Linked DNA regions of Homo sapiens. The protein of the gene in region 3 purifies or fractionates together with the protein of the main gene of each other region. This does not show direct contact. Each region holds a gene or a part of one and is shown on either strand. Other genes may lie near its edges. The genes, in order: NOP58, PURA, WDR76, NCAPH, HADHA, SPIN1 and MYH10.

Region 1 (4,060 bases), on a different chromosome or scaffold from region 3:
CTTTAACTTTTGGAAACTATTAGTCTTCATAAACTACCCCAAAGCCACTAAAATGAAACAACATTGTGTGCTTATGTAAGTATTATCTAATGGCATTTTCTTTATCTCTTGAGAATTATTTCAATTCCAGATACTTGTTAGAGATTTTCTAAAACTTTTTGGGTCTTTCAGTGAAGTGAAGACTTACGATCCTTCTGGTGACTCCACACTTCCAACCTGTTCTAAAAAACGCAAAATAGAACAGGTAGATAAAGAGGATGAAATTACTGAAAAGAAAGCCAAAAAAGCCAAGATTAAAGTTAAAGGTTAGTTTGAATTTTTTTTTTAACACAACTTATACTCACTTCTTTAGAACTGTGGATTTTGTGAGTCTTAAAAGTACATGCCATCCCACTTTATTATAAAACTGCTCATTGAACGCTAATGGTGTTTTAATAATGCCATTATGTTCTCTGGGAATATGATATTGTTAAATTTATCAGACTGCACAGAGGAAATGTGAGAAGTTTAGTCAAATTAGGTATTTTACTAAGAGTTCCAAAACTTCATTTCTCCTACATGAACTATTTGGAGAATTAAGAGAAAAAAGGAACGTGTTTTCTAAATTGGTTGTTGAAAATTTTTTGTTTTATAGTTAAGAATGAATACAGAATTGATGGAACAGTGATTTTCTTCATTGTTTCTCTTACACGGAGCGGACTGGAAGGAATACATACTGGTAGCCTGCCGTCATAGTTACAATATCTAACAGGTGCTCACCAGTTAACTAGGCTGTCTTGTGAAGTTGATAAGCAGGCGCCCCATTATTAGTTACACCTGGGTTTATTGAACACCTACTAGCAAGTCTAGCAGAAGAGTAAAGCATTAACACAATGATTGCTTTAACTTGGTTTCTAAGTAGCTTAGTGGTCAAAAGTATATGATCTACAAATGTGGATAGTATACTTGATAGAGAAAACAAACAATTTATTTAACTTTTATGCTTCTTTTTATTGAAAAGTAAGGAGATCCCTAAACCCACTAGTAGCATTTGAGGCACCAAACTCTGTCCTTTGTATCCTCAATTGTGTATCCAATAAGCTTTTCCAATTTATTTGTCAATTTTTCATCCCACAATTTCCCCCCTCTTTTTTTACCCCCAAGACAGAATCTTGCTCTGTCACCCATGCTGGAGTGCAGTGGCATGATCTTGGCTCACTGCAACCTCCACCTCCCAGGTTCAAGCAATTTTCCTGCCTCAGCCTCTTGAGTAGCTGTGATTACAGGCACGCACCACCACGCCCAGCTAATTTTTTTATTTTTAGTAGAGACAGGGTTTCACCATGTTGGCCAGCCTGGTCTCAAACTCCTGACCTTGTGATCCACCCACTCCGGCCTCCCAAACTGCTGGGATTACAGGCATGAGCCACCACGCCCAGTCCTCTCCCATTTTCTATATGTGACAATTCCAGTTGCTTTGGCCATCAACCTTGACTTTTTTCTCATAACTCAATCTAGTCTGACAGCAAATCCTCTCAGTTCCACTTGAAAGTATGTAGTAGCCACAGTGGAACCACCACTAGCTTTTTAAATCTAAATTTGTTCCAGCCATACTGGCCTGCTTGCTATTTCCTGAACCTACTATCCATCCACTTATCCCATCTGCCCTCCAAAACGCCTTACGACTTAAGCATCTGCTCTACTCTACCTGGACTATTTTCCCTCAAGATACATGTATCATTCATTCACTCCCTCACCTCTTCTAGGTGTTTGCCGACCATTCTGCCTAAAATGGCCATATATACTGCCCTTTTCCAACATTCCCCTTCCTGCTTTATTTTTATTCTTACCACTTTAATATCTATTATGTAATGTATCATTTATGTCTCCACTCTGCCACTAAAATAAAAAAGATTCATAGGGAAACGAATATTTTTGCCTCTTGTGCCTTGCTCGAATTGTTTAGTACAGAGTCTGACATGAATATTATTTGGTTGCTGAATTGCTGAATTTCTCTCTCTTTTCTTTTTCTTTTTTTTTTCTTTTTTTTTTTTTTTTTTTTTTGAGACAGAGTCTCCCTCTGTCGCCCAGGCTGAAGTGCAGTGGCGTGATCTTGGCTGACTGCAGCCTCCGCCTCCTGGGTTCAAGCAATTCTCGTGCTTCAGCCTCCTGAATAACTGGGATTACAGGCATGCACCACCATGCCTAGCTAACTTTTTTGTATTTTTATTAGATACAGGATTTCACCATGTTGGCCAGGCTGGTCTTGATATCCTGACCTCAAGTGATCCTCCCGCCTCAGCCTCCCAAAGTGCTGAGATTACAGGCGTGAGCCACTGCACCCAGCTGGTCACTGAATGTCTAATGATAGCTATGTGTTGAGTCCTTATTGTAATGTGTGCTAAGCATTATACTTAGTGCTTTCTATGCATCATCTTTTTAAATCAGTAACAGTCCAGTAAGATAAGACATTCTTAAGTTTTATAGATAGGGAGCTTCACCAAGGGTAAATACAATTTTTCAGGGTTGCAGCAGGTAGATTAAACCCAGGCCGTCTGACTTCAGAGTGCAAGCTCTTAACCATTTCTAATATAATTGACTTTCTTCCCAATAATGATTGGAGATCAGATGACCTTTGTTTTAATCCTGATTTTTATACATGACTTCATGATCGTGAGAAGATTGCTCTGAGCTCTATCTATATCATTCGTTAAAGTTAGTGGTAGGCCTTGGAGAACCTTCCCAATTATAAAATAAACAAAACAAACATTGGGTAGTTGATGAGAATGACAGAAAAAAACTAGGACTCAAACGTTTTTGGAAGGAATGAGATCTGATACAGTGTTAATTTGTTGTGCCTTTACACTTACCCTATTCAGTTGAAGAAGAGGAAGAAGAAAAAGTGGCAGAAGAAGAAGAAACATCTGTGAAGAAGAAGAAGAAAAGGGGTAAAAAGAAACACATTAAGGAAGAACCACTTTCTGAGGAAGAACCATGTACCAGCACAGCAATTGCTGTATGTTTGTTTTTAATTATCGGTTTTCACTTGGAGGGGCCAGTTCTCTATATTTCAATCTATTTTCTATATCAGAAATGAGCAGGCATTTTAAAAAATGGTTTTCATTGATGGAGAGGTAAAAGTGAAATGGCTTTGTTGTATTTATATTATAAAAGGCCATTTCCCAAATCTAGAATTTATTACTAAAAATCAAGTTTGCATTGAGGGGAGGAGTATGATTTGCTCAAGCTTACTTTTTTTATAGGTGGGGTTTTTATATTTTCAATGTGATTACTCACCCATACAATTTCAGCTCTTTCAAAGCATTCTTGTTGGCTATTTTCAGAGTCCAGAGAAAAAGAAGAAAAAGAAAAAAAAGAGAGAGAACGAGGATTAACAGAAAGGAATTACGATTATATCACCCGGACACACATCATGCTTAAGATTCAACTGGGAGCATACCAGGGATGCTCTCTAACGTAATCAAGGGAAGGTTCAGTAAGACAAAGTGATTTATCATCTATAACTTCAAACCTATTTGTCTTGACATCAACTCTGTTAACCTTATGTCATCATTTCTTAGAGTCTTTGATATACAAATAAAATTTTCTTTGTATTTTAAGACAATTTTGTGATCTCTTTATATCTTAGGTAGAGAATCTTTGGCTCTTTCTGTAGTTTGCCATGTGATGATTATTGTTTTGATAATTATAACTGAAAAGTGAGAGTTGTTTTGAAATTTAATCTTTTGGAAGTCAGTGATTAAGTGGACCAATTCAAGACCCCACTCTAATGTGTTTCTTTTGCCTTTTTGGACTACTTTTTATTTTCCACCTATAATCTTTCTACCTCTTTATTTAAATAAATATTTGTTTCTTATTCAAATTTTTAAATTAGGTGAGCAAAACTTTTTAGTTCAAAAGGGTGGGAGACAGTATCCCTCCCTTTACTGTTTGCAATTCTAAAAGGCATACCAAAATAATTCTTAAAACCCTGATTTGTTTTTAAAGTAGTCAGCCTGAAGTGACTTTTTTAAAGGTTGTACAAAGTGATCATAAAGAATGGAGAATAGGGAAAAAATAA
Region 2 (4,060 bases), on a different chromosome or scaffold from region 3:
ATTCTAAAATAGAAGGACTTGGTCCTTGAACTTGGAGGCCTCTTGAATTATTAAAGTGGAACCAAAATCAAGAAAATTAAACTCTTTAGCTTAAACATTTTTCCATCTAATGCTACAAAATAAGCTAATTGCTAATAATTATCAAAACAATGTGTGTATTTATGAAAACATGAAAATCCTGTGATTCCAAAATGAGTGAAATACTTCTGATGTGTAAGAAGCAACTATATTTTACATAGAGGATCACCACCATGTTTCTGCCTATCAACAGGACAATCTTCCACAAAAGCAAAGGACATCAGGAAGGAAAAACACAAAACAAAACAAATACCAAACGTGGGGACAAAATAAAAATGAATGAGTAGTTATGACATTCTTGTTAAGAAAAATGTTAACAAGTGACCTTTGCCACACTCAGCTTTCCTAAAGACATAAATTGCCTGGACCATTCAACATCAAAACTTGGTAGTTAGCTTAGCAGATTCATTGGCTTGAAACCAATCATTATTTCTTATTTCATCTGGTTGTTCTTTTATCATGAAATTCTACCTGACTCATGCTAATTCTGGCTTATTTTCACTTAGCCTGTAATGAAATTTCTGTTCAAAAAGGACGTGTCAAATGGCCTATACCTTAAATTTAGGTTTTCAGGATCAAATAACTTCTTAAATATTAATATTAAAATCAGCTTTTCTTAATATATCACAAAATCTGCAAAGAAGATTCTATAATAATTCGTGAATAGCAGTGATCACTTTAGTTTTATAGCATACTTATGAATGGCCAAAATTTGGTTAATATGCAATGAAGAAAACAGAAATATTGTGATTTAAAAATTGATACACTTTAACAAATCTACACAAATAACTTTGGTGAATTTATCTATGTAAGCAATTCCAATAAATTATCTCTCCTACTTATTCCACTCTCAAGGAGATGTGTGTATCTATATACATATACACACACACAATGTATATATACATATATATGTGTATGTGTGTGTATACATCTCTCTCCAAATTATGAAGATATTCAAATTTAGGGATAATAAACTATAAATGTTATACTCAGAGTCATCACCAACTATTCCAAACCTAAGTTGCTACAGATGCCCTTGTTTTAGCATCCTTTTACATAGATAGCAAGGTCTCATTCTGATACTCAAAAGATTTTAAAAAGGGAAAAAAGTCATTAGACTTGGTATCTCACTTTTTATGGTGAAGAAAATCTTAAAATTATGTTCACATGTAAAATAAAATGAATTGTGGAGCTATGAAAGCTACTAGACCATCAATTTCAGATAGCCCCATTCTAAAATTATCTGGAAATGTGTGTGTATATATAACCTGAAAAAATGAGTGGGAATATTGTAGACAAGAAGGTGAACCATGTGTGGAAGATAAAAATAATCATGCCCATATGGTGGGGTCACCAGGTCTAGCAGATAACCCAAAATGTCATAAAAGAAAAATGTGTTTAGAAAGTTTGAACAGGGCCAAAACACAAAATGTTAAAAGCACACAAACAAAAATGAATGAGATAATCCCCCCAAACGTCAAGTTACATAAGAAAATAGGAAGAAAAAAGTTGACATAGTATCTTTTAAAATATATCAAATCTTAACTGACTTAAAAAATGATATAAAGTGCTTGGGCCATGATACCCACCCAGATTCTCATTATCAACGGATTTATCTTTTCCCCCTCCCTTCCACCCAAATTTAATTCAGTTTTCCTTAAGAAAAAGTACAGCATCCCTATATTAATAAGAAATGAAAACAGTGAGTACAACTGATATAGATCCATTGACTTTTATTACAAATGTACTTGATCACTTGGCTTCAAAAAGTTTAAAATCAATACCCTATTTTCTGTATGCCAGTACAAAGCAAACTGTTTTACAAATTAAATACCTAAAAATTTGACAAAAATATTAAAATTTGATGAAAAACAATTATAAAAATCCTTAATCTCTCTCTTCAAAAAAGGAGGCAGTCTTCCCACTCCTATTATACAATATTAATAATATTCACCATTTTTAGAATAGGTAGCTAAATTATATCTTTCTGTTAGCATACAAAACTTAGACTAATATATTTGTATATGCTCCAGTTAAGTTTGTGAATGCCATCTGATTGCAATATAATCAACTATCTTTAATTGAATCCTAATTTACACTTATTTAATAATTTGCATAGTTTGAAAGGGATAAAGGTTATTCTACAACTAATTATCATAGGCTATTACAGTGCTACTTTTCAAGGCAATAAGTATTTGCTCCCAAATGAAGTATATGTCTTCTTTAGGCAGGGGTTAAAATTACTAGCAGCTTTCTCTATTACCTGAAAAATCAAATTGGAAGTTATCCATCTCTCTAGATGTGAAGGCCTGAAAAAACATAATATACTTTCCGCTTGGAATCAAATTTCAACCCCTGCATGGGACAACTAGAAAGTGAGACTTTCAAGGTTTTTTATTTCCCTGTTGGTTTTGGTTTCTACTCTCCATGGCTTTTTGAGAAGCTGGAAAACAGTTTGTCTTTTCTGACTAGCATTGTCTTTTTTTCCATTTGGCAAATATTCATCTACCTCCAATCTGTATCTAGTAGAGGAAAAGCCGACATGGCTTTTCTTATGAACTTCCTTTGTTGTCAAAGGCATGTATAATGATTTCTACAGTTCTGGTTAGTTAACTTTAGCTCCCTCTGTGGCTGGATGACTGCTGCTTCTAACATCAGCATGATAAATAGGAGGCACAAATAAAAAGTAGCTTAAAAAAAATTTGGTGATTTAAAAGAAAAAAACAACTCCAAACACACACACATACATAAGCATTTCAAATCTGGTGGCTGATCTCTGGATTAAATTACTTGACAGTGTCTCTCATTTTAAAGAACGTCAATATTGCAATGCAGTTCAAGTTTTCTTTTATACTTAGGCAAATAATACAGTTTAACCAAGCTCTTGGACCTTAATTGTAAGACAAAGCAGATCAATAAAAATAAGGCATACTTCTCAGGAATTAAGTTTTGTTTGCTTGTTTTTGGCACATTTGATCATACTGTCTTCTATGAATAACACATATGGTCAAATATACCATTTCCTTATTTGTTTCAGCATAAACAGGGTTTACCAACTAGTAAAATAAAAACAAGGAAAAATTCCAACATAAAACACTGATATATAGAAACTAGGTAAAGTACCGAGCACCTGGGAGGGAAGGGTAGGGAAAGGATGCAACAGAAGAGGGAAGACAAGGTTTGGGAGGGTGCTTGGGGAGGTAAAGTGAGATGCTTAAAAAAAGAGCATCTTTACAGTCACTTAGTCTTTTCTATGATCACTTTTTAAGTCTTAAAAGATCTGCATGTGGATTTCTTTTTAAACCCACTGACCATAAATCAGACACTGGTTTCAAAATCGTAGTTAGATTGTATTAAACTGTTTTAGTGTAAAGACAATTAATTGCACAATACATGTGCTTCTTGAGCCGGTGGGATTCCAAGCAGAATCTGAAGTCTATAGATAAGAAAGGCTTCACTTTAGGTAACTCTGGCCCTAAAGAAAACCTCATGAAAGAACTCGCATCTCAAAGAAAGGACACTTTGCCTAAGTTTGCTGTGTTTTTGTTGACTTGCACTACTTATTGCTGGCTACTATGAAACAGTGATCTAGGAGTACTCCAACAACCTGTAGTACAAGGCTTAACTTTAAGAAGCTATAGTAAACAAGAGACAAAATCAAAGCAATTCTCTTTCCTAATTAGTAACAGCACAGAGAATGCAGTCTTTTCCATATCACAGTTAAAGTACAGTGAACAAAACAGCTCAACAAACCTTAAGACAAAAAAGTGCAGGTTATTAATGTTTACATGCAGTTGATAAGCATTCCAAATGTCACATTATGCACTGTAAAAGCTCAACTTTACTATATGGAAATAAGAAAAATGCACCTCTGGGGAGGGGGAAAAGCAATTTAATCATTTCCAGTGATTTTGTAAGTAAAGAAACTCCTAACTACTGTACGGTCACCTCATATTTAACATTGAATATTAAAAGCAAACAA
Region 3 (4,060 bases):
GATAATTCAAAATTTAAACACCCTTGAGTTCAAATCCTAAAGCTACCACTTATAAGCTGTTTTGACTTTCAGCAAATAGTTGTTTTTTTTTGTTTTTTTTTTTTTTGTGAGATGGAGTCTCACTCTTATTGCCCAGGCTGGAGTGCAATGGTGCAATCTTGGCTCACCATGACCTCTGCCTCCCGGGTTCAAGCGATTCTCCTGCTTTAGCCTCTTGAGTAGCTGGGATTCAGACATGTGCCACCACACCCGGCTAATTTTTAATTTTTTTTTTTTTTTTAGTAGCGATGGGGTTTCTCCATGTTGGTCAGGCCAGTCTTGAACTCTCGACCTCAGGTGACCCCCTGACTCAACCTCCCAAAGTGCTGGGATTATAGGCATGAGCCACTGCACCCAGCCAACAATTTTATCTTTTGAGCCTGATTTCTAACTCACAAAATGAATATATTACCTACCACATGCAGTGGTTGTCAGAGTTAAATGAGATAATATAGGACAAAATTGCTAGATCACTGCAGTATGTTTCAGAGATATTCAATAAATGTTAATTCCTTTCCTTTATTCTAGGACTAAGAAAGCAAAAACAAATTGAGACGCAAAAAGATAGCCAGAAAAATTAAAAGTAAGTAGAAGAATCTTTAATAGTTTTCTAAGTGACAGTAATTTAGTGGAAATAAAGATTTCCCTTCATTAGTAGCAACAATAAATATAAACAAAATTCAGCTCTCCATTTTATTTGCTCCATATTCCTTTGATGAAGATGAGAATTGTAAAGTTATTAAAGGGTAGCATTCCCTCAGAGATCCTAGAGGGACTGAGATTAAATAGCACTTTATGATCTGTTAAGCTTACCACACCAAACCATTTTTTTCAAATTATAAAACAGTTGAGCAATGTATCATGGTTCAGGCATTGCAAACTAGATATTTTACCTTTTGGATTTAGGAGGCTGTCTCTTCTCTATCATTTCACGGAGTCTTGCAGCAGACTGTAAAGTATAAAAATCATGTAAAAATGTTATAACTACGTATCTTACCTTTTAAAATATTAAGCATCTGCTACTATACCCACACTAAACTAAGGTCTATTCAGGAACTAAAGATCCTTAAGATAGGCCATGAGTCATGATCAGCGCCACTGTACTCCAGCCTGGGCAACGCAGCGAGACCCTGTCTCAAAAAAAAAAAAGACAGGCCAGGCATGGTGGATCACAACTGTAATCCCAGCACTTTGGGAGGTCAAGGCAAGTAGATCACCCGAGGTCAGCAGTTCGAGACCAGCCTTACCAACATGGTGAAACCCCATTCCTACTAAAAATACAAAAATTACAGGCGTGGTGGCGGGCGCCTGTAATCCCAGCTACTTGGGAAGCTAAGGTAGGAGAATCACTTGAACCCGGGAGGCAGAGGTTGCAGTGAGCCAAGATCGTGCCATTGCACTCCAGCCTGGGCAACAAGAGCAAAACTCCGTCTCAAAAAAAAAAAAAAAGACAAAAAAAATAATGCCTTAGAATCAACAGAGTACAGTAACCTCTTCCTATTAAGCACAAAACCTGCTCCAATTTTACCCTCCCTCATATGACACTATGAAACCTGATATGTTATTGACCTGGTGGGAGTTATGACATCTTGGGTTTTACGGCTCTTGTTGTTGCTGTTTTGAGACAGGGTCTGGCTCTGTTGCCCAAGCTGGAATGCAGTGGCATGATCATAGCTCACGGCAGCCTTGACTTTCCAAACTCAAGCCATCCTTCCACCTCAGCCACCCCAGTAGCTAGGACTCCAGACATGCATCACTATGCTCAACTAATTTACTTTTTATAGAGATTGGGGTGGGGGGCGGGGGGCGGGGGGCGGGTCTCCGTATGTTACCCAGGCTGATCTCGAACTCCTGGCCTCAAGCGATTCTCCCATGTCAGCCTCCCCAAGTGACAGGATTACAGGCGCTACCCACTGTTCCCGGCCCTGCATCTTGCTTTTAAATAGACTCCACACAAACCTCAGACAACTGAAGAGAAGCAAAAAAGTCTGCGTTTTCTGATATGTTCTTCAGTCTCTTCCTTTCGTAGGGTGACAATCCCGAAAAATCCTATAAAATTACACCAAAAAGATTCCATTACTTTATATAATCTACAGGAAAAGCACTTCACAAAACTACATGTTTCATTTTCTACATGAATACTTTACTTCAAATTGTACTATCTCTATTCATTTCATCATCTTACCAAAACAGACGTTTGCTGAATTGGATATTTCAGTAAGTCTGGATTTGGGATACCCCCAAAATATCTGTATGGCTTCCCAGTTAAGAAGTGATCTGATATTAGAAATCAAGTAGTATGATCTAGTAGCAAATTATTTCCTAGTGGCAATTAATTGTACTATTACACAAAAGTTATTTTTGGCCAGGGGCAGTGGCTCACGCCTGTAATCCCATCAATTTGGGAAGCTGAAGTGGATGGAACACCTGAGGTCTGGAGTTCAAGACCAACCTGGCCAAAATGGTGAAACCTCATCTCTACTAAAAATATAAAAGTTGGTCAGACGTGGTGGCTCACACCTGTAATCCCAGCACTTTGGGAGGCCGAAGTGGGCAGATCACCTGAAGTCAGGAGTTCGAGACCAGCCTGGCCAACATGGTGAAATCCTGTCTCAACTAAAAATACAAAAAAAAAAAAAAAATTAGCCAGGTATAGTGGCAGGAGCCTGTAATCCCAGCTACTCAGGAGGCCGGGGCAGGAAAATCGCTTGAACCTGGGAGGTGGGGGTTGCAGCAAGCCGAGATCGCACCATTGCACTCTAGCCTGGACAATAAGAGCGAAACTCCGTCTCAAAAAAAAAAAAAAAAAAAGTTATTTTTTTCCAACAAAAAAACTTCCCTTAAACGCAGTAGAGTGAGTAAGTACATGTCTCTACTTTCTCCTAAAAAGCCACTAATGTAACAGTAAGCTAATTTTTTAAAACCCTGAGATATAAGGCAGTATATTCAGGAAATAGCAAAATACTGTAAGAAAAGAAAATTCAAAAAATAAGAACTCAATAGTTTTTAAATCCATGAAAAGGCTTAAATTTAGAAAGTAGAACAAAAAGATAAACACATGAACAGAAAAGACAAAAAAATACTCAGTCTTAGAGGTCCAATATCCAATTCATTGTTCGAGAAACTGCTGAGAAATTGGAAGAGAATCAATTATTAAAAAATAATATAAATGGCAGGCCGGGTGTGGTGGCTCACGCCTGTAATCCTAGCACTTTGAGAGGCCGAGGCAGGCAGATCACCAGGTCAGGAAATCAGGACCATCCTGGCCAGCATGGCAAAACCCAGTCTCTACTAAAAATACAAAAATTAGCCGGGTGTGGTGACACACGCCTGTAGTCCCAGCTACTCGGGAGGCTGAGACAGAAGAATTGCTTGAACCCGGGAGATGGAGGTTGCAGTGAACCCAGATCATGCCACTGCACTCCATCCAGCCTGGGCCACAGAGCAAGACTCCGTCTCAAAAAACAAACAAACAAAAAAAAAAAAGAAAGGGCTGGGAGCAGTGGCTCACGCCTGTAATCCCAGCACTTTGGGAGGCAGAGGCAGGCAGATCACAAGGTCAGGAGATCGAGACCATCCTAGCTAACACAGTGAAAGCCCATCTCTACTAAAAAATACAAAAAATTAGCCGGGCATGGTGGTGGGCGCCTGTAGTCCCAGCTACACAGGAGGCTGAGGCAGGAGAATGGCATGAACCCGGGAGGCGGAGCTTGCAGTGAGCCGAGATGGCGCCACTGCACTCCACTCTGGGCAACAGAGCCAGACTCCATCTCAAAAAAAAAAAAAAAAGAAAAGAAAAGAAAGAAAAATAACGTTAAGTGGGAGACCAAAGCAGGAGGATCACTGGAGCCCAGAAGTTCAAGTTTGTAGTAAGCTATGATGACACCACTGTGTTCTAGCCTGGGCAACAGAGTGAGACCCCATCTCTAAAAAATAATAGTTTGAAAACAAATATTATTTTAAAGTTTCTCAAAACTAAAGACATGAGCTTCCAGATTAAAAAGGCCCAATGAGTATGCAG
Region 4 (4,060 bases), on a different chromosome or scaffold from region 3:
ATTTGAAAGAAGCTCCGCTATGGATAAAATGCTATCAAACAGCATTGTATGCTTCAGAGAAATCTTTAGTGACAGGAAGAGTTGATTGATGTAGCAAACTTCATTGTTGTCTTATTTTAAGAAATTGTCGCAGCCACCCCATCCTTCAGCAACCACCACCCACCCTGACAGTCAGTAGCCATCAACATTGAGGCAAGACCCTTTAACAGCAAAAATATTACAACTCACTGAAGGCTGATATGATCATTATAATTTTTTAGCAATGAAATATTTTTAATTAAGGTATGTAAATTGTTTTTTAGACATATACTGTTGCACACTTAATAGACTCCAGCATAGTATAAGCATAACTTTTAAATTTGTGTGACTGGAAGTGCCTGTATTAAACACTGGACATTTGGCTAGGGACACCTGAGAGTGTGCCCAGAGGAGAGTATTCTAAATGAAGATGCAGTTAGAAGTTGTGTCATATGAAGAACAGTGGAAGAAAATGGGGCGTTTCTTAATTCAAGTATTTATTGTTTAGTAGTAGTTTTGGATTTGTTACAAGCACATTGTGGGTTTATTTGAGTTGTTTTTGAGGCACAGAATTATATTAAAATATTCAGTGTGCTCTTGTAAACTGTGCACATCTCCAGTCACATTTCTCCTACTTCAGAGATTTATATATCAAGTAGAAATCACTGGTCTAAGGAAGGACCTGCAAATATTTGAAAGACTGTGATCCATAGGCACTCGTAAAAGAGGAGCCTCATTCCACGAGGCTCTGGAATACAGAATGAGGATGATGGATGTAATTAGAGGGAAGAGCTGGATGTCTCTCCTTGTTGCCATGTAGGGAACAGTGGTTTCCATTCAGGAATGAGACAGGCTGTTAATTAAGGTAATGGGTTTTCCTTTTTTTTTTTAAAGACAGGGTCTCAGGCTGGAGTGCAGTGGTATGAGTATGGCTCAGTGCAGCCTCAACCCCTGGGCTCAAATGATCCTCCTGCCTCAGCCTCCTGAGTAGCTGAGACCACAGGCACACAGCACCATGCCATCTTTTTTTGTAGAGATGGGGTCTCACTGTGTTGCCCAACGCTAGTCTCAAAATTCCTAGGCTCAAGCAGTTCTCCCACCTCAGCCTCTCAAAATGCTGGGATTACAGGTGTGAGTCACCGTGCCTGGCTGGTAATGGGTTTTCTGTCAAAATTGTTCAAGTGCAACAAGGTGACTTTCAGAAAGCTGGAGGGTAGATTTTCCAACTTTTGTTTTTAGTGAAGGAACCCTTTTTCAGGTAAAACTGTGCAGAAGGCCTAATTGCCAGTCACACAGAAATAGAGCTGCTCTGGTTTATTTGGGATTGGTAGAGATGCTGAGCCCTGCTACTCCAGGTTTGCACTGTATAGTGGAAAAGTCTGTTAGACTTAGATGACTTGTGAGGGCCCTTCTGACTCTAAAATTGTATAATTCTAGGAGGAGATTGGGCATAGGAATTAAGATTTACTTCTCTAACCTAGTTCAGTAGCTTTTAACAAAATAGCTTTCTGCATTTATTCTTTCCTTTAGTTACTTAAGATGGCCCAGGGCCATAGGGTAGAGACTGAGCATTATGAAGAAATTGAAGACTATGATTACAACAACCCTAACGACACCTCCAACTTTTGCCCTGGATTACAGGTAAAGGGGGGAAAGGGGCTCTGTCCTCTCTTCTAAGCCAGGGAGTCGTTTTTCTCTGCTTCTCATGTCCCCATTTTATATGGTGGGAGACTGTTGGCAATTTTGAATCCAGTGGAGGTTTTCTGGGTAAAGGGTCTGCCTTCCACCCAGTGCAGGGAGCTGAGCAGAGTCAAGGAAACAGCCTCACCTTGGCCTGCCTTACCTCACATCCTACATGCAGGAAGCAAATGGCCACACTCAAGTGAATGCGTCGACATGTGGATGGGTGTTTAGCCTCTGCTACAAAGTACTAATCTTGGCTGTTGTGGGATTTCAAAGGAATATAAACACTTTGTCCTCTTATGAGCTAATATTTTGGCCAGGTAGACAACCAGATCACACCATATGTGATCTGGTGTGGCAAAAAATAAGTCTTCGGGGTGTATCTCAGATGACCAGATTTCTAGCTGTGAATGCAGTTCTCATATTGCAAGCTTGCTGTGAACTTGTACAAGCCACCCCCCATCTTTAGATCACGGTTTAGACTAAATAATTTCCATATCCCTTCTCTGAGTCTACTGATGAGATGGCTAATACAGGTAACAGAAACTGGAAAAATAGGCTTCATCTGTGTCCCTGTATGTGGAAAGGGGGGAACGAACTGGAAAAAAATGTATTCACCTTATTTTCTTACTTAGGAAGAGAGTTAGGCTGTTATATTTTAGTGAAAATCCAGACTGACCTCTTGACTAGTGCTTCTCAAACTTTAACTTACATACAAATCACCCAGGGAGCCTATTTAAGGACTGATTCCTGACCTGTGTCCCCCCACCCCACCCCCTGCCCGAAGATACTGATACATTCACTCTGGATGTGATCGCAAAAATGACTTTCTCACCTGCTTCTGGGTGGTATGCCTGCTACTGACCAGATGGCCCCAGGAATCTCCTGTGCTTTCCTTGGGTGATATGTTCAGGTCATATCTCCGGTATTTGAGGAATGTTTCTGTAAAATGAAATCCTAAATTTGTTAGAAGCTGAAGGGGGGACATAGTGGCAATTATGGTTATCGAATTCCTTTTAACTCCCGCTCAAAAGGTCTTAGGTTGATAACAGACACCTCTCTAATAGGGTTTACGTGAAACAGGATGATAACTAGAGGCACCTAGAAGTTCATCGTAGTGTAACTCACTGAGTGAACCATCAGATGGTCTCTTCTTGCTTTGTAAACATGGAGTCTATTTCAAGGGTGTTTCTGAGCTCCTCTGCAGCGTCCACCAAACTCGAAGAGCTGTTTCTTGCCCAGGCTGCTGACAGTGATGATGAAGATTTGGATGACTTATTTGTGGGACCTGTTGGGAACTCTGACCTCTCACCTTATCCTTGCCATCCACCTAAGACAGCACAACAGAATGGTGACACTCCAGAAGCCCAAGGATTAGACATCACAACATATGGGGAGTCAAACTTGGTAGCTGAGCCTCAGAAGGTACGGATGAAACAGCTGAGAATTACATTGTTTGCCTGAAATCTATTTAATTGTCTCTTATATGAGAGTCACGCAATCTGAGCTTGATTTCTTTTCTTCTCAGTTTTAACCTGTTGCTCTCCAAGTTTTAAATAGGGTTGTGGGAGTGAGCTGATGCTAATTAGGTTTGTGTGGAACTGACCATCTCTCCAAAGACCTTGATAAGACATGTAACTAGGGAGGAACTGGTCACCCAAATAAGGCATATGAATGAAGGCTGCAGGCAGAGAATATAAATTTATATGCTAATTCAGCAAGGCTAGCTAGCTAGCTGTGTGGCTCTGAAAAATCTTGGCCAAATTCAGTTTGTATTAAATTATCATGTATTAAACATTTATCTCTTCCATACCAGGTGGCAGGCTTTATGCTTGCCTTTATATTTGATTCATTTATCTCTTTTACACTGGAATTCCAGTTAGCCTTAATGTAGATTGCACTGGATTGAAAAGAAATTAGATTTGATATGAGGGACTCTATATAGTGTCCAAAGAGAGCTCTGGGCTGGGCGTGGTGGCTCACGCCTGTAATCCCAGCACTTTGGGAGGCCAAGGCGGGCAGATCACGATGTCAGGAGTTCGAGACCAGCCCGGCCAACATGGTGAAACCCCGTCTTTAATAAAAATACAAAAATTAGCTGGGCATGGTGGCAGGTGCCTGTAATCCCAGCTATTCTAGAGGCTGAGGCAGGAGAGTCATTTGAACCCAGGAGGCAGAGGTTGCAGTAAGCTGAGATCATGCTATTGCACTTCAGCCTGGGCAACAGGTCGAGACTCCGTCTCAAAAAAAAAAAAAAAAAAAAAAAAGAGTTTGAGACCGCGTGGCCAAAATGGTGAAATACCATCTCTACTAAAAATACAAAAATTAGCCAGGTGCCTGTAATCCCAGCTCCATGGGA
Region 5 (4,060 bases), on a different chromosome or scaffold from region 3:
TCATTACAAATATAAGAGGCAGACCTTTTCCCTCATTGTCTGATTTGGATGTTCTCACTGCTGTGTTGTATGGAACCAAAAGAGGCTCAGCAGGCTTTGAATTCCAAGGAGAAGGGAAGGACAGTCAGACCTGGATGCTGCAGAGCAATCTTAATGTCAACTCAAGGGCCCACTGAACCTTATAGCTTCTGGCACTGTAGATTCCTCAGTGAAAACAAGGCTCAACAGAAATACTCTTTGCAGGGAAGTTGATCTCAATTGAGCACAAAAGAAAACAAGGTTTATGGTGTTAATTTTCTAATAATAATAATGTGCTTTCCTTCATAGGAATGTCATAAGGATTTATTGAAAGAATGAATATGCATATATGTGTATCAAAAATATTTGCTGAGTTTCTTTCTTTCTTCTTTTTTTTTTCTTAAACTATAGCTGGTATTTGAATGTTGCTAGAAGCCTTTCTTCTAGTATGCCATATAAGCAGCCCTAGCTGAGTTCTATTTTTGTTAAGCTTAAAATTCTTTTTAAAGACTTTGTCAAAACTATCAGGTTTCTCACAGTCTTCTCTAGTTTCAATATGAGAATTTTATTTTATTTTATTTTTGGGACAGAGTCACTTTTGTTGTTCAGGCTGGAGTACAGTGGCATGATCTCGGCTCACTGCAACCTCTGCCTCCGGATTCAAGCAATTCTTGTGCCTCAGCCTCCCAAGTAGCTGGAATGACAGGTGTGCCCCACCATGCCCAGCTAATTTTTTGTATTTTTAGTAAAGACAGGGTTTCACCATGTCGGGCCAGGCTGGTCTCAAACTCCTAACCTCAGGTGACCCGCCTGCCTTGGCCTCCCAAAGTGCTGGAATTACAGGTGTGAGCCACCGTGCCTGGCCAGAATTTTACATATTATATATATGATAGAAAAAAACCCCTCAGAATAACAGAAATGTACAATTTTAGGAAACATGAAATTCTTTACCTTATTAGTATAAGAATCCTATATATTGAATTAAGAGATAAAGACATTTTTGCTTCAGCTAGAGGTATCTAATCCCCAAAGTTACCCAAGTGTATATCAGTATATTAAATATAACTTATCTATGCTGTTGACAAATAGCATAAACATATGGCTTGACTTTTCTCATTTTAATATTTGTTCATTTGATGATTTGTAAACTATATAATTATCACCCTGATTTTTTTCCCCCTATATTCTCATCCTTGCTTGCCTGTTAGGTGGGTGTGCCTGCTGCTTTGGACATGATGCTGACTGGTAGAAGCATTCGTGCAGACAGGGCAAAGAAAATGGGACTGGTTGACCAACTGGTGGAACCCCTGGGTAAGTGTTAGCACATCTCAGAGTCAGACCTTATAAAGTTACTTATTTTCTTAAAGAGTTAACCTCTTAGGCCAGGCACGGTGGCTCACACCTGTAATCCCAGCACTTTGGGAGGCTGAGGCGGGAAGATCACTTGAGGTCAGGAGTTTGAGACCAGCCTTGCCAACATGGCGAAACCCTGTCTCCACTAAAAATGATTAGCCGGGTGTGGTGGTGCAAACCTGTAGTTCCAGCTACTTGGGAGGCTGAGGCAGGAGGATCGCTTGAACCTGGCGGGGCTGAGGTTGCAGTGAGCCAAGATCATGCCATTGTGCTCCAGCCTGGGCAACAGAGCCAGACTCCCATCTCAAAAGAAAAAACAGTTAACCTCTTGAATATCACAGGAAGCACAGAGAGAAGCTCAAACTCTTAAGAAATGAGTCATTATTCTAAGGAAGGAAGTTTTATAAAATAGCTAATACTAAATCATTTTCAACATCACCCTGATTTTTATTTTGCTTTATAATTAGAACATTAGGAGTACAGAATTCAGTCAAGTCATTATTTTTGGTTCTTAAATTACCTGTATCATTATCCATGCATAACCTTCCTTCAGTTTCTTGTGTCTGTTTTAGTAATATAATAAATGAAACAACCAACCTGAGAATATTAACAATAATTGATATCTACTGATGGGCTACTTCCTCCCATTCAGTTTCTTTGCCTCCCTTTATCCAAAGAAGCCACTATTCTGACTTGTGTGTTCATTACCCTCTTATATTTATTGAAAATCAGCATTATTGAGATATTACTTACATAATAGTAAATGTATTAATTTTGTGTGTGTGTGTGTGTGTGTGTGTGCGCGCGCACACATGTTGGGGTCTCACTCTGTTGCTCAGACTGGAATATGGTGGTGTGAATATAGCTTGTTGCAACCTCAACTTTTTGGGCTCAAATGATCTTCCCACTTGTGCCCCCCGAGTAGCTGAGACCACAGGCATACGCTGCTACACCAGCTAATTTTTTATTTTTTGTAGAAACGAGATCTCACTCTGTTTTCCAGGCTAGTCTCAAACTCCGGGCTCAAGTAATCCTCCTCCCTCAGCCACCCAAAGTGCCGAGATTTACAGGTGTGAGCCACTGTGTCTGGTGAAATTGACCAACTTTTAATGTATAATTTGAGTTTTGAAAATGTATATAGCTGTGTAAACACTGCCACAATCCAAAAATAGCCGTGCATGGTGGCTCACACCTGTAATCATAGCATTTTGGGAGGCTGAGGTGGGAGAATTGCTTGAGGCCTGGAATTCAAGACCAGCCTGGACAACAGAGCAAGATCCTATCTCTTAAAAAAGAATTTTTTTTTTTCAATTAGCTGGGTATCATAGTGTATACCTGTAGTCCCAGCTAGTCAGGAGGCTGAGACAGGAATATTGTTTGAGCCCAGAAGTTCAAGGCTGTAGTGAGCTATGATCACACCACTGCACTCCAGCCTGAGCAACAGAGTGAGATGCCATCTTTTAAACAAAAATTTTTAAACATTTCTGGTATGTAGTTTGTTTTAATCTTCGTTCACTTAGCATAATGCTTTTGAGATGCATCCATACTGTTGCATATATCAGCAGTTTGTCCTTATTGCTGAGTGTTACTCCATTGTAGAAATGTACCATAGTTTGTTTATCCGTTCACCAAATGATGAGCATTTGAGTTGTTTCTAATTTAGGGCTATTCTGAATAAAGCTGCTATGAACATTCATCTTTAAGTCTTTATGTGGGCGTGACTGGGCGTGGTGGCTCAAGCCTCTAATCCCAGCACTTTGGGAGGCTGAGGCAGGCTGATCACCTGAGGTCAGGAATTCAACACCAGCCTGACCAACATGGCGAAACCCCATCTCTACTAAAAATACAAAAATTAGCTGGGTGTAGTGGTGTGCACCTGTGGTCCCAGCTACTTGGGAGGCTAAGGTAGGAGAATCACTTGAACCCAGGAGGTGGAGGTTGCCGTGAGCCAAGATTGTGCCACTGCACTCCAGCCTGGGTGACAGAGCGAGACTCTGTCTCAAAAAAAAAAAAAGTCTTTATGTGGACAAATGTTTCATTTCTGTTGGGTAAGTACTGAAGAGTGGATTGGCTAGTCCATATAACAGATATATATTAGCTTTTGAAAAAAAAAGTTTGGCCTGAGCAACATAGCAAGACTCTGTCTCAACAAAATAAAAAGTTTTAACTAGTTGGGTGTGGTGGCACATGCCTGTAGTCCTGGCTACTAGGGAGGCTGAGGCAGGAGGATTGCTTGAACCCAGGAGTTTGAAGTCACATGGAGCTATGATCAGGCCACTGCACTCCAGCCTGGGTGAGAGAGGGAGACCTTATCTCTGGGAAGAAAAAAAAAAAATTTAGAGATGAGACTTTGAGTCTTGCTCTGTCACCCAGGCTGGCCTCAGACTCCTGGGCTCAAGCAGTCTTCCTGCCTCAGCCTCCCAAGAAGCCGGGATTACGAGGCATATGCCACTAGTATTTGCTAGGTATGTGTTTGCTTTTCTGTCAGACTGTTTTCCCAAAGTGGTTATACTCTTTTGCATTCCCACCAGCAGTGTATGAGAGTTCTAGGTACCAACCACTTTGCATGGTCAATCTTTTTAATTTTAGACATTCTAACAGGAATGTAGTAACAGTTCTTTTTTCTTTTTTTTTTTTTGAGACAAAGTCTCGCTCTGTTGCCCAGGCTGGAGTGCAGTGGAACAATTTT
Region 6 (4,060 bases), on a different chromosome or scaffold from region 3:
TGTAATCCCAGCACTTTGGCAGGCCGAGGCGGACAGATCACGAGGTCAGGAGATCGAGACCATCTTGGCTAACATAGTGAAACCCCGTCTCTACTAAAAATACAAAAATTAGCCGGGCGTGGTGGCGGGCACCTGTAGTCCCAGCTACTCAGGAGGCTGAGGCAGGAGAATGGCGTGAACCCGGGAGGCGGAGCTTGCAGTGAGCCGAGATCGCACCACTGGACTCCAGCCTGGGCGACAGAGCGAGACTCTGTCTCAAAAAAAAAAAAAAAAAAATACATTAAATAAAAAACTAAAGCAATTCTTAAAGGAAGAATTTCAGGCAAACAACCCAAATTAATTATCAAACATATAACATAATCAGAGAAAATCTTTTCAAATGGCCTTCCAAATTAGAATGTCAACTGTACATGCTTATGTGGATATATTTTAAGGAAAAAACCATAACCAAACATAAAGCTACAGTTGCTTATTAGTGTTATTTTCAAACTACATTTATACTGTAAGATAATGCAATTATATTAATGTTGCTAAGAATGTAAATTTTCAACGTTAGAGAAAAAAGGATAAGCTCATAGTAAAAACTCTGTGATGTTAAATTCGAACTGGAAATACCAATATAAAAATCAAAATCTGTATGCTTCCCATGGCTGTCCAATAAAAGCATGGGCATTCTAACAGTAAGAACATATAACACCCAGATTTCTGTATCTAAATTCTAATCCTCAATAAAGCAAGCTGAAAGACTCGGTTGATAGGTATTTGGCAGGAAAAGCACAAAGTGAACCTTAGACATCTTGTGTCAGAAAGCAAGAAAAGCTTCAGAGATTACGTGTCATGTCAAAGGAAAGAGAACCAGGTTGAAAGGACCTCAACATGTCCAAGTTGTGAAAAGCTAAGGAAAAACAGTGAGTATTTGATTAAAACACTGGATAAAGCCACACATGGTGGCTCACACCTGTAATCCCAGCACTTTGGGAGGCTGAGGTGAGAGGATCACTTGAGCTTGGGAGTTTGAGACCAGCTGGACCAACAAGGTAAAACCCCATCTCTACTAAAAATACAAAAAATTTGCCAGGCATGGTGGTGCACGCCTGTAATCCCAGCTGCTTGGGAGGCTGAGCCAGGAGAATAGCTTGAACCCGGGAGGCGGAGGTTGTAGTAAGCCAAGGTCACACCACTGCACTCCAGCCTGGGTGACAGAGCAAGACTGTCTCAAAATTTAAAAAACCAAAAACACACATTGGATACATAAAAATCCATGGGTCTACAATGATGCTAAAGAGAGAAAGAAAAAAGTAATTCAAACCCCTCCCTCCAAAAAAAATCAGCTCTGGAGAGATGGCTGACGCCTGTAATCCCAACACTCTGGGAGGCCGAGGCGGGCAGATCACAATGTCAAGAGATCGAGACCATCCTGGCCAACATGATGAAACCCCCGTCTCTACTAAAAATACAAAAATTAGCTAGGTGTGGTGGCACATGCCTGTAGACCCAGCTATTCGGGAGGCTGAGGCAGGAGAATCGCTTGACTCCCGGGAGGTGGAGGGTGCAGTCAGCTGAGACTGCGCCACTGCACTCCAGCCTGGTGACAGAGGGAGACTCCGTCTCAAAAAAAAAAAAAAAAAAAAAAAAAAAACCCAAAAGCAAGAAAAAGGACATTCTTTTCTCTCCTTATTGCCTGTGTCAGGTTAAGCAACAGTAATTCAAATATATGATATGATTTGTTAAATCATTTGCAGACAGGCCCAAGCATAAACAACTACAAAGAAATATAACCTAGTTTTAAAAAAAAAATTGCCTATTTTGTTAACACGCTACTATAACATCTCAAATGGTAAAAAGATGCCTTACTAGTCTTTTCATGTATTCTCTCACCATTTGGATAAAATAATATTTACATTGAGTAAATTCTTCCTCCTCCCCTCCCTTCAGGAAAAAAAAAAAAAAAAGCACATTTAACATAACATTAAATATTCTGAGTTCAGACCAATACCCCATGCCTTAAATGACTTCACCAGCTTCTCTAACAGGCTAGACTCTGGAGATTAAAGATCCTACATGGGCAGGTTCCTCCAACTCACCTTTCATACTGTTCTAAAACACAGGTCCAATCCTGCCCCTGCTTTCAATGGTTTCCCTCTGCCTACAAATTCAACACCAACCACCTTAATGTTACATGCAGAATTTAAAAGGTGGCCCCCAAATTCATCCCTAGACAGATCAGCCATAGGAAAGAAACTACAGGTGGTGTAGGCAGTGGTGACATCATCATCAATATCAACTGGGCATTTACTGTACACCAGGAGCCTATGAAACATTTTACTTCATTTAAGCTCACCCCTGATGAGGTAGGTGTTCTCGTCCCCTGCTATACATAAACACACTCACAAAGGAGGATAGATAGAAAATAGTAGCTAGGTAGATAGGTAGAAAAAGAGGGAGGAAGGAAGGAAGGAAGGAAAGAAGGAAGGAAGGAGGGAAGGAAGGAGAAGAGAGGAGAGGAGAGGAGACAGGTAACAAGGGGCTAACTTTTGGCTGGGATTGAAATCCCCGATGGCCTCTTTAACTCCTCTCATGCCTCTGTTCCTGCTTTCCCCTCCATCCAGATGTCTTTCTTCTCCCATTCTGATAATCTATGGAATCACCTTCTCTTCCCAGATACCTTCAGCACAGAATTCCCTCATTATATGCATGTGTATCTCCTCTATCAGACTATAAAGTCTGTAAGGATACATCTGTGTTTATATATTTAGCCAAACACGACTTGTTCTATAAAGGGTTTACGGCAATTTTAAGGTCATGAACAGGCTCCCAGTAAAAACATAATTTAACATTAAATTGGACTGAATACTGATGCACAACTAAGGAAACTGTTTACCTCAACATTAAAAAAATGCTAATAACTACAGCTAAGTTCAAAAGTAGAAAGGAGAAGGAAATCAACATCTACTGGCGTCAGCTGCTGTATTTCAGGAACTGTACTGAGAACTCTATAAATCCATTTCATGTAATTCTCAGAACAGACTTACACCATAGGTTTTATCCCAGTTTATAGGTAAGGAATTCAAGGTTTTAAAAGGCTTTGCGGGTTGGCTCTTTCACCAATATTTGCTGGAGTTTGGGTTTTCAGGCTCTTTCTGGGTCATAGATTTCTTTCCAGGATACCTTGTAGCAATTTGAGAGCTGGCATCACTTCCCGCTGGGTCCCAAAGATGCAGGAAGAGCTTAGTACTGTTGACTAGACCGCGGATGGACCCACCACAAAAGTTTAACCCAACCTTGACCCCAGAATCTTCACAAATGCTCAGTGAAGAAAATCCCCAGGACGACTCGGGCCTCTCTTCTGCTCAGAGATGTCAATAAAGAACTTCAGTAGCGTGACTTTCAACCCTAGTACCAAATTCCCTTCCCTTCTACCAGAAGATTCATCCCAACAACTGGATAGAAGAGAAACGACCTTCCAGGACATCAGAGATGGCTTGCCTCAGGAGTAGAAGTAAGAACGCTGCTACCTATGCAGAAAGGAAGTATGGCAAAATTGAGATACCTGTTACTCAACAGATGTTCTTGGCTTGAAAAACTAGTAGACACTGGGCCAAAGGGAGAGTTCAGAATGAATCAAGAAGGGAACCATTCAAATGTGGCTGCAGTTTCTGTTATCATAGATAGCCTGAGAATGCTACAACAGGGAATCATGACACCAAGCCAATTCAACCATAAACTGTCATTCTTGTACTTTTTTTTTCTTGCTGGTAATTTTATGTATTAGGTTGAGAAAGCTAATCTATGTTAGAAGAGCCTGTATACCAATAATTTTAATAAACAGTTCTGTGATTTTTTTGGGTATATTTTCATTTCTACCATACCACCAATAATTTATCAGAGATCTATGTAGCTTGAATGTATTTGAGTAACTTCAACATACTTCAGCTCTCCTCCCTGATGTGACCCAAAGAGCCAGTAGGTCCTAAGTGTCCTATGTGTGTTAGAAGCCTGAAGTCAGTGAGATGAAGCCCAACCCAAGAGTTCAAGTAAAGCAACTTGTGGGGCAAGAATA
Region 7 (4,060 bases), on a different chromosome or scaffold from region 3:
AATCAACATTTTGAAATTTTACAAATACACTTTTAAATGGTTCACTAAAGGAATCATCATAGAAATTAGAAAATATTTAGAACTGAAGACTAAATACTACATATAGAAACTTGTGATGTGAGCTAAAACAGTATTAGAGAAGACATTTACAGTTTTTAAACTGTTTTATTAGGAAAGAAGATGAAAATTAATGACCTGAGAAATTGGGGGTCAGAGAGAATAAATCCAAAGAAAAGGTAAGAAAATAAAATAACTAAACCTGTTAGCAAGCTAATTTGTTTAAATAAATTTATGTTATATCTTATCTATAGAAATATGTCCAAAAAAGGTTCTACCCAAATTATTCTAGTATCTATATTATTGAACCTCAACTGATCATCCCAACTGGCTGGTTAATTCCAAAGCCCAATACATATTTATCACAATGCTAGCATGGCTCTCCCCATCCCCATCCTCTTAACGACACAGACTTCTTTGGAGTCAAGTTCTCCAACTAGAACCTTAGGTAAGAACCCTTTCTCCACCCAACTAATTGAAGATATGATCCTCCCAAACCCCGACCTCTGTGTGACCTTGAGACTTTGAGAAAAACTCAGATTCTCCTGTAGAAGGAGGCTGTGCTTTGAAAAGAAACTCAGAAGTTCACTCAGGTTGTCCATGAGTTAAGTTGGAAAAAAATCCAACAAACTCAGTAAGAGATAACTGTAAAATCTCTGAATTATGTGGAATGGCTGCAAAACAAAAACAAAAACAACAAAAAAACACCTGTCCTTTCTTTCATTCCTTTTCTACTTAGCACCCTTTGCAGCTACCTCCAGCTGCCAGTGTGGGAAATTAAGGTGAAGGCTGGCAGAAAAGCAGCCTGGCTCCTCTTCACACTGCACAGTTTTTGATGGTGACATCACATTTCCATACCTGCACAATTTATTGCAATGGGCTTCATCTGAAACTGATCAACCTCTCAAATCTTACATGTCGACATTACAATCTGACCATAACCTCTTAATTTTGCAGTTTTCTCACTCCTTCACCCCATGATCCCTGTTCCTCAACATTCTGAAAACTTCCAGGCCTTGATCCATCAGCCCCTCCCACCCAGACTCCCATTCCTACCGAACGAGGACTCCAAAGACGGCCACTGAATCCCCCTCTCACTGTGGAAGCCATGCAGATCCAAAGCCCCCCACACTCACAGACCTGAGACAATCCCATGGTCTGGCAAAATCACATAGCCAGGCAAAATTGCGGTCACCCTACACGTGGTTATTCAATCTCAGCTGGACTCTCAACGCCACTCTCCAGTCGCTTTCTTATCCCTGGCTTAGTCTGAAATTGGAAAAGGGTTGTTCCTAAGCCTTTCCATTCTCCTCAAGCCACCGTTCCAACCCTGTGGCCTCTTACTCTCCTACCTCATAGAGAAGAAAATAAGGGAGATCTATCAGGCTTGGTTGAAACTACTCTGGCAAAGGTCATGAATGAATCATTCTTTTCTCAGCTTTTCTCGTGGCTAGCTGCCTCCCACCAGTCAGACTCCAGCTCAAATGCTACCTTCACAAACAGCCCTTAACTGACCCGCTGGAGAAAGCCATTCTCCTACTTACTCTCTCCATAGCCTTGTTTCATTTCCTCATTGGACATTTCAGAAAGGCAGAGAGACCTGGCCTGTCTTCTTCACTGTACTATCCCCAGCACCTAGAGCACAGGGGGTGCTTAATAAATATTCCTTAAACTAATTCTGTAGGAAAACTAGCTCTGATTTACTGAAGTTTTGAATTATTCATGACCTTCAGTAGCACACTCCTTGTGTAAAATTCAACACCCCTTTTCCGATTTCAAACCACGACCATCAACTTTTCTTCCTACTTCCCTTCATCGTCAGTTTAAGTCCCACACGTGCCACCTTCTTCAAATCATTGCCACCTCTGTCTACCATTCCCTCAAACCTATTTTGTCATTTTAGATTTTTCTTTTAGTATCTGGCTTACATTTTTCCTCTCTACATTATCCCTCTCTACATTATCCCTTATGATTTTCAATAACTTCTTCTACATGGTCAGTGACAAAGTCGGTGACTCCAACATTCATGTCAGCTGCTAACCACAGGACGACCCCAGCCAGCCTCAATCTTACCCTAATTGTTTCCTCTTAAAAACCTCAGCATTCATCTTTCCTACTTCCCTACTACATCCAGTGAAGCTGTTCATGCTGTCCACAGAAATTTCTCAGCTTACAGCCCCTCCACTTTACTCTTGGGTATGCACTTGATTTTTGACCGTTTTGCTGTCTGCGTCCAATTAATGCAACTCTCTTTACCTTATTAAACCTTCTGGTCTTCCTGTTACATGCTCTCTCCCACCTTATTATGCTCCAGAAGACCACTACAAAAGTCTTCAAATGCCATTTTATTATATGTAATTGCAGCCTGTATTATTTAAACTTAATGTGTTAAGATTCAAAGAAAAGCAAGACATGGGTAAGCAAGCAACAAATCTTTCTATCTTAAAGAGAAATAGAAATGTTAAACAGAGAGTTTGGGTATTCCACATTCTCATTTGATTATGACAAGATGTATAATTTACATTAATTCCTAGCTACCACTTCACATGATTATTTGGAAGAAATACTTACATAGATTAGTCCTGAATAGTAGCGATCCTTCAGATTATGTAAAACGGAAGCTTCATTCAAGCATGTCAATTCTGCCATATCCTCCACCTTGGAAAACTTAGGTGGGTTCATCTTCTGAATATCATCTTTGTTGACCATTGCTTTCTTTCCATTCTCTGCCAACTCCACCATAACTTCATCTCCCCGTTCTTCTTTGATACTAGCTGCCTCAAAACCATGGCGTTCTGATGGAATCCACACTAGCTTTTTAGCTGTCCAATCAGCTTGAGTGGCAGGGTTGTAGATGACAGCCCTGTCCACAAAGAGATACCTCTCTGGATCCTCGAGTCCAGTTCTCTGCGCCATTGTAAATGGAACGATCCAAAAGCAATTGCCTCTAAGAGAAGAGGAGGAGGGCAAAATTAGATGTTTAAGAAACAAAAGAATGTACACGTTTTTCTTTTCTAAGAAACTTAAAACCTTAGATTAAGCATTAACTCTGTGTTAAGGAGCTGGGGTATACCTCTTCACAGCCATACTAACCGAGTTTCCAAGGTAAATTTCAGCGGTGACCACAAATTATGGCTCTGGTTGTCTGATGGGTTTGCCCTCAGTTACTGAGGGCAAAAAAAAGAAAAGAAAAGAAAAGAAAAGGCAAAGTTACAAGTTGACCCTTTTTTTTCTTTATCTCCTCTTTCACCCTCACCACAAATTAAACAGGGAGTTAAGAAGGGAAAAAAAAAAAGAAAACAAAGATGGGTAATAAAAGGTTCATGAAGTGGTACCAGAATTAATATGACCACAAGGAAACAGCTACAAAAACACATGATTGTCAGAAGAGTAAAGAATCTAAAGAATCTAAAACATGCCTCTCATTCTACCCTCAGATAACAGACTTAAAGTTCTTCTTATGAATAACCCAAATCAGTCTCCCTCTAGCTTTTCTATGGCCCCATGAGGTCTTAATGTGATCAACTGGGACCACAAAAGACAAGCATAACTTGGCTTCACACGGCAGCCTTTTGAATATGTCATGGTAGCAGTTCAGGCCTCTATTCCCATCCTGCAGCTCCTCCACCCCTCATTCACCAAGACTCCTTCCCCTGCCGGATCTCTCGCCTAAACAGACTCCAACATGCTGCTTGTCTTCCCTCTAAAGTGTGTGGCCCAGAAGCAAACATCATAGCCCAGATATGGTCTGACCAGTGCAGAAGAAAAAGGAACCATCAACTATCTTAGCCACATTGAGGAAAGTACTGGTTCTGTGACATTTACAATTAATGTATCTCAAGACCTAGTTGTTTTATTTAGCACCCATTTACCATTGGCTCACAAAGGGCTAGCAGAGGAAGCTCCATCACTTTGTGGCTAAGCTATGTCCCCTCCTCTACTTGTGCACTGGCTTTCTGGACCAAATGGCAGGATTTTACATCCATCATCTTTCTAATGTGAC

What was found.
Region 1: the proteins of WDR76 (region 3) and NOP58 purify together in Homo sapiens (affinity purification with mass spectrometry, with the first as the bait; 2 studies listed by BioGRID). This does not show direct contact.
Region 2: the proteins of WDR76 (region 3) and PURA purify together in Homo sapiens (affinity purification with mass spectrometry, with the first as the bait; 2 studies listed by BioGRID). This does not show direct contact.
Region 4: the proteins of WDR76 (region 3) and NCAPH purify together in Homo sapiens (affinity purification with mass spectrometry, with the first as the bait; 2 studies listed by BioGRID). This does not show direct contact.
Region 5: the proteins of WDR76 (region 3) and HADHA purify together in Homo sapiens (affinity purification with mass spectrometry, with the first as the bait; 2 studies listed by BioGRID). This does not show direct contact.
Region 6: the proteins of WDR76 (region 3) and SPIN1 purify together in Homo sapiens (affinity purification with mass spectrometry; 2 studies listed by BioGRID and IntAct, with this or other methods). This does not show direct contact.
Region 7: the proteins of WDR76 (region 3) and MYH10 purify together in Homo sapiens (affinity purification with mass spectrometry, with the first as the bait; 2 studies listed by BioGRID). This does not show direct contact.

Annotation. Positions count from the first base shown.
Region 1 is NC_000002.12:202,300,063-202,304,122, forward strand, and holds the end of NOP58 (nucleolar protein 58), read left to right. Parts: intron 1-171; coding exon 172-305; intron 306-2,858; coding exon 2,859-2,995; intron 2,996-3,323; coding exon 3,324-3,374; 3' UTR 3,375-3,599; downstream 3,600-4,060. UniProt on the Homo sapiens protein: Required for the biogenesis of box C/D snoRNAs such as U3, U8 and U14 snoRNAs. Part of the small subunit (SSU) processome, first precursor of the small eukaryotic ribosomal subunit.
Region 2 is NC_000005.10:140,117,151-140,121,210, reverse strand, and holds part of PURA (transcriptional activator protein Pur-alpha), read right to left. Parts: 3' UTR 1-4,060. UniProt on the Homo sapiens protein: This is a probable transcription activator that specifically binds the purine-rich single strand of the PUR element located upstream of the MYC gene. May play a role in the initiation of DNA replication and in recombination.
Region 3 is NC_000015.10:43,833,089-43,837,148, reverse strand, and holds part of WDR76 (WD repeat-containing protein 76), read right to left. Parts: intron 2,089-4,060; coding exon 1,999-2,088; intron 989-1,998; coding exon 933-988; intron 1-932. UniProt on the Homo sapiens protein: Specifically binds 5-hydroxymethylcytosine (5hmC), suggesting that it acts as a specific reader of 5hmC.
Region 4 is NC_000002.12:96,362,933-96,366,992, forward strand, and holds part of NCAPH (condensin complex subunit 2), read left to right. Parts: intron 1-1,548; coding exon 1,549-1,659; intron 1,660-2,943; coding exon 2,944-3,126; intron 3,127-4,060. UniProt on the Homo sapiens protein: Regulatory subunit of the condensin complex, a complex required for conversion of interphase chromatin into mitotic-like condense chromosomes.
Region 5 is NC_000002.12:26,227,461-26,231,520, reverse strand, and holds part of HADHA (trifunctional enzyme subunit alpha, mitochondrial precursor), read left to right. Parts: intron 1-1,226; coding exon 1,227-1,329; intron 1,330-4,060. UniProt on the Homo sapiens protein: Mitochondrial trifunctional enzyme catalyzes the last three of the four reactions of the mitochondrial beta-oxidation pathway.
Region 6 is NC_000009.12:88,391,025-88,395,084, reverse strand, and holds part of SPIN1 (spindlin-1), read right to left. Parts: intron 1-4,060. UniProt on the Homo sapiens protein: Chromatin reader that specifically recognizes and binds histone H3 both trimethylated at 'Lys-4' and 'Lys-9' (H3K4me3K9me3) and is involved in piRNA-mediated retrotransposon silencing during spermatogenesis.
Region 7 is NC_000017.11:8,620,274-8,624,333, forward strand, and holds part of MYH10 (myosin-10), read right to left. Parts: intron 3,005-4,060; 5' UTR 2,974-3,004; coding exon 2,629-2,973; intron 1-2,628. UniProt on the Homo sapiens protein: Cellular myosin that appears to play a role in cytokinesis, cell shape, and specialized functions such as secretion and capping. Involved with LARP6 in the stabilization of type I collagen mRNAs for CO1A1 and CO1A2.